Regions from separate parts of the Homo sapiens genome. Here region 1 is linked to region 2. Evidence: fine-mapped expression QTL. A gene starts in region 2. The other region holds a variant in brackets. All regions are shown on one strand. Distances are between the middles of the regions.

Region 1 (5,392 bases), 12 kb after region 2:
ATTTAAAAGAGATTATTTATTTAGTACTCAACAGTTCACTGGGTGGACTGATCACATCTGTGTTTAAATTAAAAAATTCAAGTATAGGGGAAGAATAAGGATGGGAGAGAGAGGGAGAGAAAGAGAAGATAGAGGAAGAAAGAGATGGAGGGAAAGTAGGAGAGAGAGACAGAGGGAGAGGAAGAAGGAAAGGAAAGGAAAGCTTGAGAAAGAAACATTCCCCAATTTGCTACTTAATTTTCATTTCAAATGCCTATGTAATTGTTCACCTGGAGTCAACAGAGCTACAGAACACACACACACACACACACACACACACACACACACAGACAGAATTCTATCTCCAAGTCAGAGGAACAATGAAAGCAGATTCAGAAAGCACAGTCCTGTGTGGAGTTTCTGCTTCAGTTATTAATTTTTATTCCTGCACAATTAAAAATGTGGTTGTAGAGCAACAACATATACAATCAGAACCAAAACTGAATAGGACAACCCTCCCCCACCCCCACCCCCACCCCCATCTCCTCGATCCTGGCTTAAAAACAGGAAATTCTTATTCTCTTGGACATGATAAGCATCTCTGACAACTTTTCAAACATGCAATTCCTATCAAGTAAGATGGCATGTAGAAGGTCAAGCAAAGAATCCCGTGGAGGAGAGTCGCCCAGGGCAGACTCCTAGGAAGGTTTCTGTTTCAACAGACCCGGCTGGTCCAGACTAAATCGAGAGGTTGACCTGCAAAGCTGCCTTCAGAGCAGCCAGATGCAGATGCAGGCTGTTCGGGAACTTCGGAATGTGATTAGTATTTGTGATGGAAACAGCTAGCACTTCCACCCACAAAAGGATTTTTTTTTTTTTTTAAAGAAAGAAAAGAGAAAAAAAAGTCAACTTTTTACTTTGCTGCAACCTCAGCCACAGAGCAGAAAGCACAACAAATAACCTGTCTGCCAATTCTCCTCCATCTGATTCCAAACTTACTGCCTTCTTCTCCTGAATTTGCAGGGGCCAGAAGTGTGCAGCCAGCACTGGCCCCGTGAGGACTTAGCATAGCATTTCACAGCTATGTCACTAGAATTACAGTAAATATCATATCTTCTGAGTGAATGATAGGGTTCTTTTCATTTGTCCCTAACTTTTGAAAATTAAAAATTTGTTTTTTCATAATCCATATGAAAAATAAGACAGACATTACATTCTGCATTTTAGGCCTCCTCAATGTGAAAATTACATCGGTTTTCCCCTCCTCAATTCTTGAAGCTTTATTTTAAATGTGATTCAATGAACTGACATCTGACTCTTCCTTAGTTCGTGTTCTTAATGCTTCCAGAACTTGATAACTTATTCTGTCGGCTATGAATGCAAAAAAAAAAAAAAAACTTTGTAGAAAAACAATCCAAGGGAAACTAAAAGTTATTCTAAAGTCTACCAATTAAGATAACCATTCTTAACATTGGGTAGTGTAGCCTTCCTTTATTTCACCAGTTTGTACCTATAATTTTTTTATAAGATTGTAATTTTTTTTTACAAGATTCTCTGTATATTAGAAAATAAAGGCTAGGAAATAAGCCATCCTTAAAAAAATAAAGAAAAAGTTAACACAGCTGCAGTATTGGAGTTTATAAAGCTGTAATGACAGCCATGAACACAGATGAAGCAATTATGAACTTTTATCTATTGTGAATAGATAAAAATCCAATTGGAAAATGAGGCCTACCCCACTGAACACCTGTTTATGGTCTTAATTTTGCCTTAACGAGACACTACTGATGTCATTCAACACAACAAAAATCAATAGTGGATCAATATGGATAAACATGTTGGGTACAACCTTTTGTCCTAAGAGACAGTTAACAGCTGGGTTTAGTTTTACTGGGATTTACTCGAAGACTTGTAAAAGTAAATAATGGTGCATTTAAGAATATTTGCCTGTTTTGATTTAGTGAGTTTGGCAGGTGGCGGTGGCCTTTCAATGACATATGGCTTTGAAATTACATCAATATATGCATACAATGTGTCTTTTCCTTTAGTTCATGCATCAAATTAATTAATAAAGAACCCCTGGTTTAACATTTTATAAGCAAATATTCCCCAGTGTTGGTTGAAGAAAATACAGTGAAAAGATAAAAGAGAAAAGAGCCTGAAACGTTCTGCAGGAATTTTTAAGAA[C/T]AGCAGAATGAGCACATAGATTGACAGGTACCAATATTTTCTTACAACACTACAAAAGGCATATCCAAGTATGTTTAATGAGGCAATGTTAATTTCTTCTTTTCAAAGTTAAATTACTTATACTATTAAATGAAATAGCACATGTTCAATGTACCTCAAATGTTTCCATTAGGGGACTTACCCTGTGTATCCCTTGTAATAAATGAGATTCTGATGACCTTCAAAAGGATGCAAAACTCTATATTTATAAATAAAAATCAAGATGAGAAACTCTAAATATATTTCATGCTGTAATCCCCTTAATATTTCATGATTGGAAGTTATAGAATAACATTATATATAGTAAAAATTACAGATTCTAGTTTTTGTTTTTATAAAATTTTGTTCATTTGTTTTCATAACAGACTACTTTCAATTATAAAGTCACATTAAGAAAAGCAAATGATAAATTTTATAGAAACCACAACTAAATAAACCACATTATGTTTTAAGATTAATTTAACAGAGAAATTTACCTTTGAGGATCAAAGGGCATCATGTTTTTGTAAATTATAGAAACTCGTAAATTTGGTTCTCTATGCAATATCCTATAGATTATATACAAAAGCATGAGATTCTGGCATATCTGCACTAGCATTTACACTATCTTCAAAAGCATTCCTATCTGGCAGTTGCTACTTAATGTTCTACCTGTTTGCCTCCCTTATTTTATTTTTCAGTATCTTATTTTTCAGTAATACAAGAAATGTTCTATTGACAGAAATTTAAATAGCATTATAAAGCCACAGTGTCTATTAAGATAAATGGATATCGTACTGGTTTTAATATTGGCTATTTTGAAGTGTGTTTCACTTGCTTTCATAAAGAGAATTCACTTGATATGATTACAGACATGTTCAACTTTAGGGACAAAATAGCAAAGTAAAGTTTCTCAGTTTTTGAGTTTTACATCTTACAGTTTGACATGGTTACAAATAGATTCTTTACTGTTTACATGGATAAATAAATACATTAAAATGAACATTTACAGATCCTAGCAAATCAACATTAGTATAGTACTGTTAAAGAAATCACTAAATCACTAAATATTTTACTAGTTAACTAGTCAACTAAAATAAACTTTCAAAATGAAGTGCCAAGGAAAAGTCAAATGAGTTTTTAATCTGAACCTGAACTAGAGAGAATTATCTCACTTCAAACACCACAACACCTACCCGCCAGAAGGAAACCTTTCACATATTTTCTTTCGCAAAGAAGCCAACAATAGTCACTTTGGGCAATATATACACACACATGCAAAATACAGAAAGGCAACTCACTCCAGCTTTCAAAGATGAAGAAAAAAAGTGCTTGGAAATCTTGATGTTCACAGAGTCCTTCAATCACCTAGCAACCCCTCTTACTGCCGTTTTTAATTTCAAATATTTAGCGTTCAAATTCAAAGATTTGACGAAGCTGATGTAAACTGTAACTTTAAAATGAAACGAAAACAAACAGTGAAACTTTGAACAAATTTAAGCAAAATGGTCCCTACCTTTTTTTTGAGAATACGATGGCGACTGCACTTGAGAAAAAGTAGGCTTTTCTTCAGTGAAATATTCAGGTTGGCTGTATTGATTCAGGGCCATGTCCAAGTCAGAGTCCTTGCTTTTAAACATGTTTCCAGGGTAACTACAGGTATAAGGCTGATTCACTGCCCAGGCCTGTTCCATATATATGTTGTTACTGGGCACAGCCTGAGCATCGCAACCGCTGTAACCCGGACTATCTTCAAAATACGCGTAATAATCAGTGGACTGCATGTAGCAATTGCTGCCGGCAGCTGGGTGCACTTCATATATTTCTTGCATACAGTAGTTCATTTTGTTTCCCTGGTTCAGTTTCTAGTTTACATATACACACAGTCTACGCATGCATTCTCCAGCCCCATACACCCTGAGAGCTGGGCATATACGCAGAGAAGCATACATACATACACATGAAACGCGAAGGGAAGATGAATAAACACCACCACCAACACAGCAACCCAGCCTGCTTTACTTTGTAATAGCACCTGATGTGCTAAAATCCTATTTAGACCGAGGTGTCTTTTGAGCTCTTCTGCCATCCAAACATATTGGAAAGCAGATTTATGACTATCAAAGGTCTTAAGCTGTGCATGCAGCTAGTTAATTCCTGGGGAAGATGGCAGGCAGGTAGGAATGACCTCCACCCAGATAGGGAAGTGACAGCGAGAATGTTACTCTGAAGCTGCTAAGATGCATTTTATATGCTGTTTTTAACCCCTTTCAACATGATTATAAAACGATTACTCATTGTTATGTCATTTTGGTTGACAGCTTAAGCATGAAACATTATAAAGACATCTTAGAGAATATCCTTGGATACAAAGAAAATCCTAAAATCAATAATCTAGTTTATTAGCATGAACCAGAGAAAATCCAGTAGTAATGAGCCTGATGACTGACTGACTCCAAAACATTAATCTAGCTGTGCAAATATTGGTGGTTGAATCTGTTGTTGAATGTTACTGACTGGGTTTTCATACTAGGATCCAACCATCTTCCCATGACACATAGGTCCCGCTGGTTTTTAAAACATGCCAAGGAAGTACACGGTTGAAAATGCTGCTGATGTCTGCAAGTGAGTTTTATTCTGTTCCTTGCGCATGATTATTTTCTACTTCATAAGCACTAATCTACATGAGACCTAAAGCTTACATTAACTGTTCAATTCTGTAATTTATGTTTTCTTTATAAAGGCATGAGAGACTGTATGCCAATGCCCCTATATGAGGAATACCCCTATTATATAGCAGCTTTCCTTTTCTGTTGGTGCTTAACAGTACTCTGATCAGTAGTGCGTGGAAAACTGTAAACACTTACCACTTTATTCCCATTCAAATCTGCTTTTGAGATTATTTTCAAGATTTAATGTGATTTAAGTGGTATTCATGTACTTACTTAAAGATAGTGATCAAAAAGGGAACAGCATTTTCTGTAAGAATCATCATATCTTTTAACTAAGGAGTTAACAAATACCAAATTAGATTGTGAATGCTTGCTAGGATGATTACTAATGGTATTTTCTCCCTGTGGATGGTGGCCAGTGTGTGCATGTCACATATATGCATAGTTGTAGATCATGACATCAGGAAGGGCGGATGCTGCTCTTCTACACTAGGGATTCCTTCCGTTTCTTAGGCAGCTTGTTTTCAGGGCTCGGC
Region 2 (5,392 bases):
TGGCAATGATTTCCTGGGTGTGCAGGGTGGGCAAATCTTGCCAAAGCATGAATGTCAGAGCATGCCATGAGAGTGAAAAACAAGTTTCCCTGCAAACCTAGCTTTTCTCTCTGCTACCCTCTGACCAAGGAGGGCAAAGGAGAACTAAAGAAACCCAGAGATTCCTGGCAAGAAGATGTATGTCACAGACAGGGAGGGGAGGGGTAGGGTAGCACGCCTCCTTCTGGAGGAAACAATAATTTCCTAGAGGTAGAAATACCAAAGTCCAAGACATCCAGTAAGAATGCTGACGGCTTACTAGGATAGGAAGATTGTTAGTCTATCTGAAGTTGGGGAGACCCTTGTCTCCCTCATACTCTGATGCTGACTCATGTTCAGGGGTGGGTTTAGGGCAAGGAGTACATTGACCAGTAAGACCACGCTAAGCAGAGAATGAGGTGTGACACACCAGACACTCCAAAAAGTCACTCTGTTCACTTTTTATTGGGATGAATGAAATAATTTATACTTTGCTTATTTCCACAAAAGAGTTGAGATAGCTAGCTCTACTATACACTATGCCATCTTTTCTGTGGCCTATCTCTGATGACTTGTCTTGGGCACTTCATGGACCAAATCCTTTTAAAGATGTTGGCCTTTCTTTTTTTTGTTTTTTCTTGATTTTCTTCTTAAAATGTTGGCCTTTCTTAAGCTATAATTAAAGCATATTTTGATGTATGATAAGGAACCACTTCATTTTAAAAAGTAACAGAAATTAACTCTTGGAAGTGGACTTGAAGACATTTAAAACAGTCTACTTATTTTAAAAAAATCCTTTTAGAGATGAGCTGACAAAAGAGATGCCCTGGGCAATAAATAAGGACATATATTTCATTGATGATTTGTTGGTAAGAAGAGGTCTTGCTTTTATAAATCAATATCAGACATGTTTCTTTGTATTCTGAGAAGAACTGTATCCATTTTTTAGTACTTTGAGATGATTCACTGATCAATGTGAAAAGGAGATAACTCACTCTTCTAGTTCACTATTCAGGCAGCTGTTGAAAAGCTTTGATTCTTTCTCTAAAAATAGTTTGCTGTGGGACAGTATCAATATCCTTTCTACAAAAGATGTGTAAAAACTTGGATATCACAACAGACATGACATCTCCAAAAGATTTCACTCTTCTCAGGGTGAAAACTGGCAAAAAGGATTCTCTCCATACACATTGCAAGTATGGGGTAGAAATATTTTTAAATTACAGGTTTGAATAAACGATATAGGAAACAATTAACCCTTTCATCTTTCACCACTCTTAAAAACCGTGTTTCACTTGAAAAACTCGTTTGTCTTTTTCCAAGATGCTTTGTCATTATATTAAGTGATCCGCACAAGTACCCTGGGAAGGCTCTTCTCTGATTTTACAATGAAGGCAACCCTAGAAACAGGATTCTGACCTGAGACAAAGTCACAGAATCTGAAAAAAAATCTAGATTTTGCTACACGATTTCTTCTTTTAAGAAAACCTCAGCTGATCCAGGCTCCAAACATCCTGTGATCTAGGGAAAACAGGCTAGTTGATTTCTTGATCATCCTGAAGACATATGTGAGGCAGGGATATAGGTTAATAGGCTCAATTCTCTCTTTGTTTAAGTCAGTCACTAATAACGTATTGTCCTCTGTAAGGCACATTCACTCTTTAGAGTCATTTTGGGGAATTAAGTATTAAATTGAATTCCATATTAAATGGAATCAGGATCTCTCTCCCAGAATTCGAAATTTCCCATTATGCGCCGATTTAGAAGAATCTCAGTGCTGCAACTAAGGTAGGGAAAGCCTTATGAATTGGGACTAATTTAGAGAAAAGTCTAGTTTGAATTATCGAACTTTTGGAATGAGAGTAGGTACCTAAAGTTATGTAGTTTTATTACTTTCAAATCAAGCCAATAAAACTACTTTCAAGAGACTGTCTGCAAGTCTCTAATTAATAAATAGCCAGAACTTACTTGTAATTAGATTCATTAAATTCCCTAAGACATTATTTTCATAGATGTAATGGCAACCTTTAGCCCAGTCTTTGTTAAAGGACTACGAATTCCAGATCAAAGGGGTCTGGATAAATAAGAACATGTTACACCACATTCCAAAAAGCAAGTCTTGCAACCTTAGAAATTACCCCTTTCCAATGGATGTATTATCTCAACATTTTTAGCAGCCTTCTCCTAAATGTTTCCTAATGTCACGTACAAAAACATAGGGAATTTGCATGGAAAATCTTCCACTAGGGAAAAGGAAAACACCTTAATTTGAAACTGAGCTAACATGTTGATTTGGGGGCTTTACGAGCAAGGGTATGAACAAAGCGGGGCAGTTGGAGAAGCGGAAGAAGAGAAAAAGAGGTAAGGTGGATGAGAGAGGAGGGAAGGTGAAATGTTTTATACATTTAATACAATTTTTGCTTTAGGGTTTACATCTTGATAATTTAGTTTTAAATATAAGAGGTAAAAAAGACAAGGTATTTAACAAGTAAACAATTTTAAAAGTCCTTCCCTGACTTTAAATACTTCTTTATTTATGAAACATTAGCTGAACAGACACGAAATACAGCACTGGGTCAAGCTTTTTCCTTTATGGTAGATTTCATTTTCAAGGCTAGATTGTTGGACCAAAAGATATTTTCCAGAAACCTTATCTGAATTTTGTTGATGAAGTCTTGTAAGTAGGCCAATTTAGGTTCAGTTTCAGGAAGTGAATGGACTGATCACTGGTATATTCTTGTCAAGTATTTCCTGCAGATAGGACTGTACAGCACAAAATTAGCCGATGGATGACCAGAATCTACTTAGTCACTGCAGGCTGTGCGAAAAGCCAACTTGGATAATTTCAGAACATAACTGAATCTAAGTAGCCTCAAAGATATTCCCTATTGGAACCCTTGAAAATGAGCATATTCACTCAGACTAACAGCAGAAAACAGCCTGTGGTAGAGTAAACTCTGTCTCCTCCAACACTGTAGATAAAACAAGAAGAGAAACAGTCATTTCTCGGGATGACAACATGTTAAAAAGGACCTATGCTTTTTAAACCCAAAGTAAGAGTTTTATTAATTTCTTTTTATTTTATTGATTCTCTTCCTGTTTTAAAAACACTTGCAGAAGTAAAGAAACCAGACATTACACTCATTTAGTTATTTATGATTTGGGAAAAAAATTCAGTTCTTGAACATGTCAAAAATGAAGAGCACAACCAGACACCTGGATGATCACAGACCATGGATGTTAGAATTTGATTTTAATTTGAATTTAAACTTAACATTGCATTCTGGAAGAGGACTGGGAGGGGACTGGAGCTGGGCTAAGCTCTGTGCTTGTGGACCCAGGGCAATTACCTTGCAGCCTTCACACGTGATACAGCGGTAGTGATACCCGGTGGCTTTGTCACCACACACTACACAGAGCTCGTCCTTGTCTAAGTAACTGGGGATGTACCCTGTGAAGGAAATAAAAGAAGGAATATTAAAAAATAATATGTTAACGTCAAAGAGACACTATAGCTAAGGTTGCTAGGCCAGAGACAAAATTGGCTTGCCAGGAAGAGGTAACAACAGTAAAGACTTAGTGAAACCAAACGGTAAGAATTTTATACTCATAGAGTTAACATAGGCCCAGGATTTCAGAATGCCTTAGAAATAGCTCACACCTATAATCCCAGCACTTTGGGAGGCCCAGGCAGGTGGATCACCTGGGGTCAGGAGTTCAAGACCAGCCTGGCCAACATGGCAAAACCCTCTCTCTACTAAAAATACAAATAATTAGCCGGGCATGGTGACAGGCACCTGTAATCCCAGCTACTCAGGAGGCTGAGGCAAGATAATCACTTGAACCCAGGAGGCAGAGGTTGCAGTGAGCTGAGATTGTGCCACTGCACTCCAGCCTGGGCGACAAGAGCGAAATTCTGCCAAAAAAAAAAAAAGAAAGAAAGAAAGAAAGAAAGAAAGAAAGAAAGATAGCTGTGATCACTTGCTGTGCAGGTGGGAATGGCAGGAAGGCTGTAGAGCCAGTGACTCAAGCAGAGAGGCCAGGATTTGAGCACTGTGAGTTCTAGATAACACAATCTATTTAACAAGGCTTATTTCAAAACCTGTTTTCACAAGATTTGATCCACTTTGGAATCACAGTACCATGCAATGAATTCAGAAAACTTTATAGCTGGAAAGGTCCCGGGAGATGACGAAGTCCTTGTAAGGTGAAGAAACAGGCCTGCAGAGGTTTGGCCTTCCTCAGGGTCTCACTGGAAATTACAGGCAGGACTAAAACCCCAGTCTCTTAATTTCTAGCCCTCCAGTGTAATATGCTGGTCTTTTTCTAAAAATGGAGAGTTGACTTTAAGTAGAATGAATTTTGCCACCTAAAAAAGTTAGGTAAACTTGTGATATTATGATATGCAATCCAACAACACTGGATAGTGTGAAATGACAGAGGTTTTGTTTATTAAGAAAAAAGGAAAATCCAACTATGATAACTCTCTTTTTTAGTGGACAATGAGTTTATTAGTTTAAATTCCTTGACTCAGGAAGCTAAAAAGCACAAAAGCAGAAGCCTCCTGTTTCCCTCCTGTCTTTGCTCCTTCAGCTTCCTGTGGAGAGGATGCCCAGACACAAGATGCTGATTCAGGAGGGCAGGTTCATTCTCCCCTCTATCAATGGTTTACCATTGATAAATTATGTGATATATAGAATCACACAGCTTCACATAAGACCAAACAATCAAAATGAGGCAGGATTGGTTGGGATGTGAAGAAGGAAGAGGCTGAGAAACAATCCTTTCTCCCTATCATGGTCCTTATGAAGTTTTTTGACTCAGTTCAGCAAAGTCTTCTTTGTTCCAATAAAGATTAGCTAGGTTGAAATGACTGATGCCTTACTGTGTATCTTACCGTGACATTTCATAGACCTTTTATTAAACTAGGTCACTGAAGTCTTGCTTTTCAGAAAAAAAGCCATTAAGGAAACAGAATGAAATAAATCCTTTTCATAATTTCTTAGAAATTATGTTGCTCCAACTTTAATTTAGAAAAATGTTCCTTCTTGGGAGGCAGATAATTGACTTGAAAGTGAGGTTTAGTAATGTACAGGATTATATTTTTAAATATCACAGCTTTTCTTAGTTTACTTTTGCATCATGCAAACCATGATTCATCTGTTGAGTTCACTGCAAGGGTTTCAAAACTCTTGTCAGTCATTTTTAAAAAGGGAATTCTGGGAAGGATCTGGGCAGAGAAAAAAGGGAACTAGAATGCTTTGCGCGTTCATTCAGTCATTTATCTATGAATTCAGAAAACATTTATTTAGCATCTACATGTGCTTAGCATTGTTCTAGGTGCTGAAAATACAAAAATGAGTAAGACATGGTT

The links. PIP is the estimated chance that this variant, and not a neighbour inherited with it, causes the effect. A credible set is the group of variants that fine-mapping cannot tell apart.
Region 1: its variant is the best candidate, but not a certain one, in a credible set for the expression of THRB-AS2 in pituitary (GTEx, PIP 0.86).

What each region holds. Positions count from the first base shown.
Region 1 is chr3:24,161,327-24,166,718 of GRCh38, forward strand. All of the region lies in intron 5 of THRB (thyroid hormone receptor beta), which reads right to left. All of the region lies in intron 1 of THRB-AS2 (THRB antisense RNA 2), which reads left to right. Among named protein-coding and RNA genes, the nearest start is that of THRB-AS2, 13 kb to the left of the region's middle. The variant C/T (reference allele first, on the strand shown) is at 2,167.
Region 2 is chr3:24,149,022-24,154,413 of GRCh38, forward strand. THRB-AS2 (THRB antisense RNA 2) reads left to right here and starts at 2,303. Exons shown (of 4, transcript NR_121667.1): 1 at 2,303-2,379. It overlaps THRB (thyroid hormone receptor beta), which reads right to left. Exons shown (of 11, transcript NM_001354712.2): 6 at 3,369-3,469. RefSeq lists a silencer at 3,993-4,193.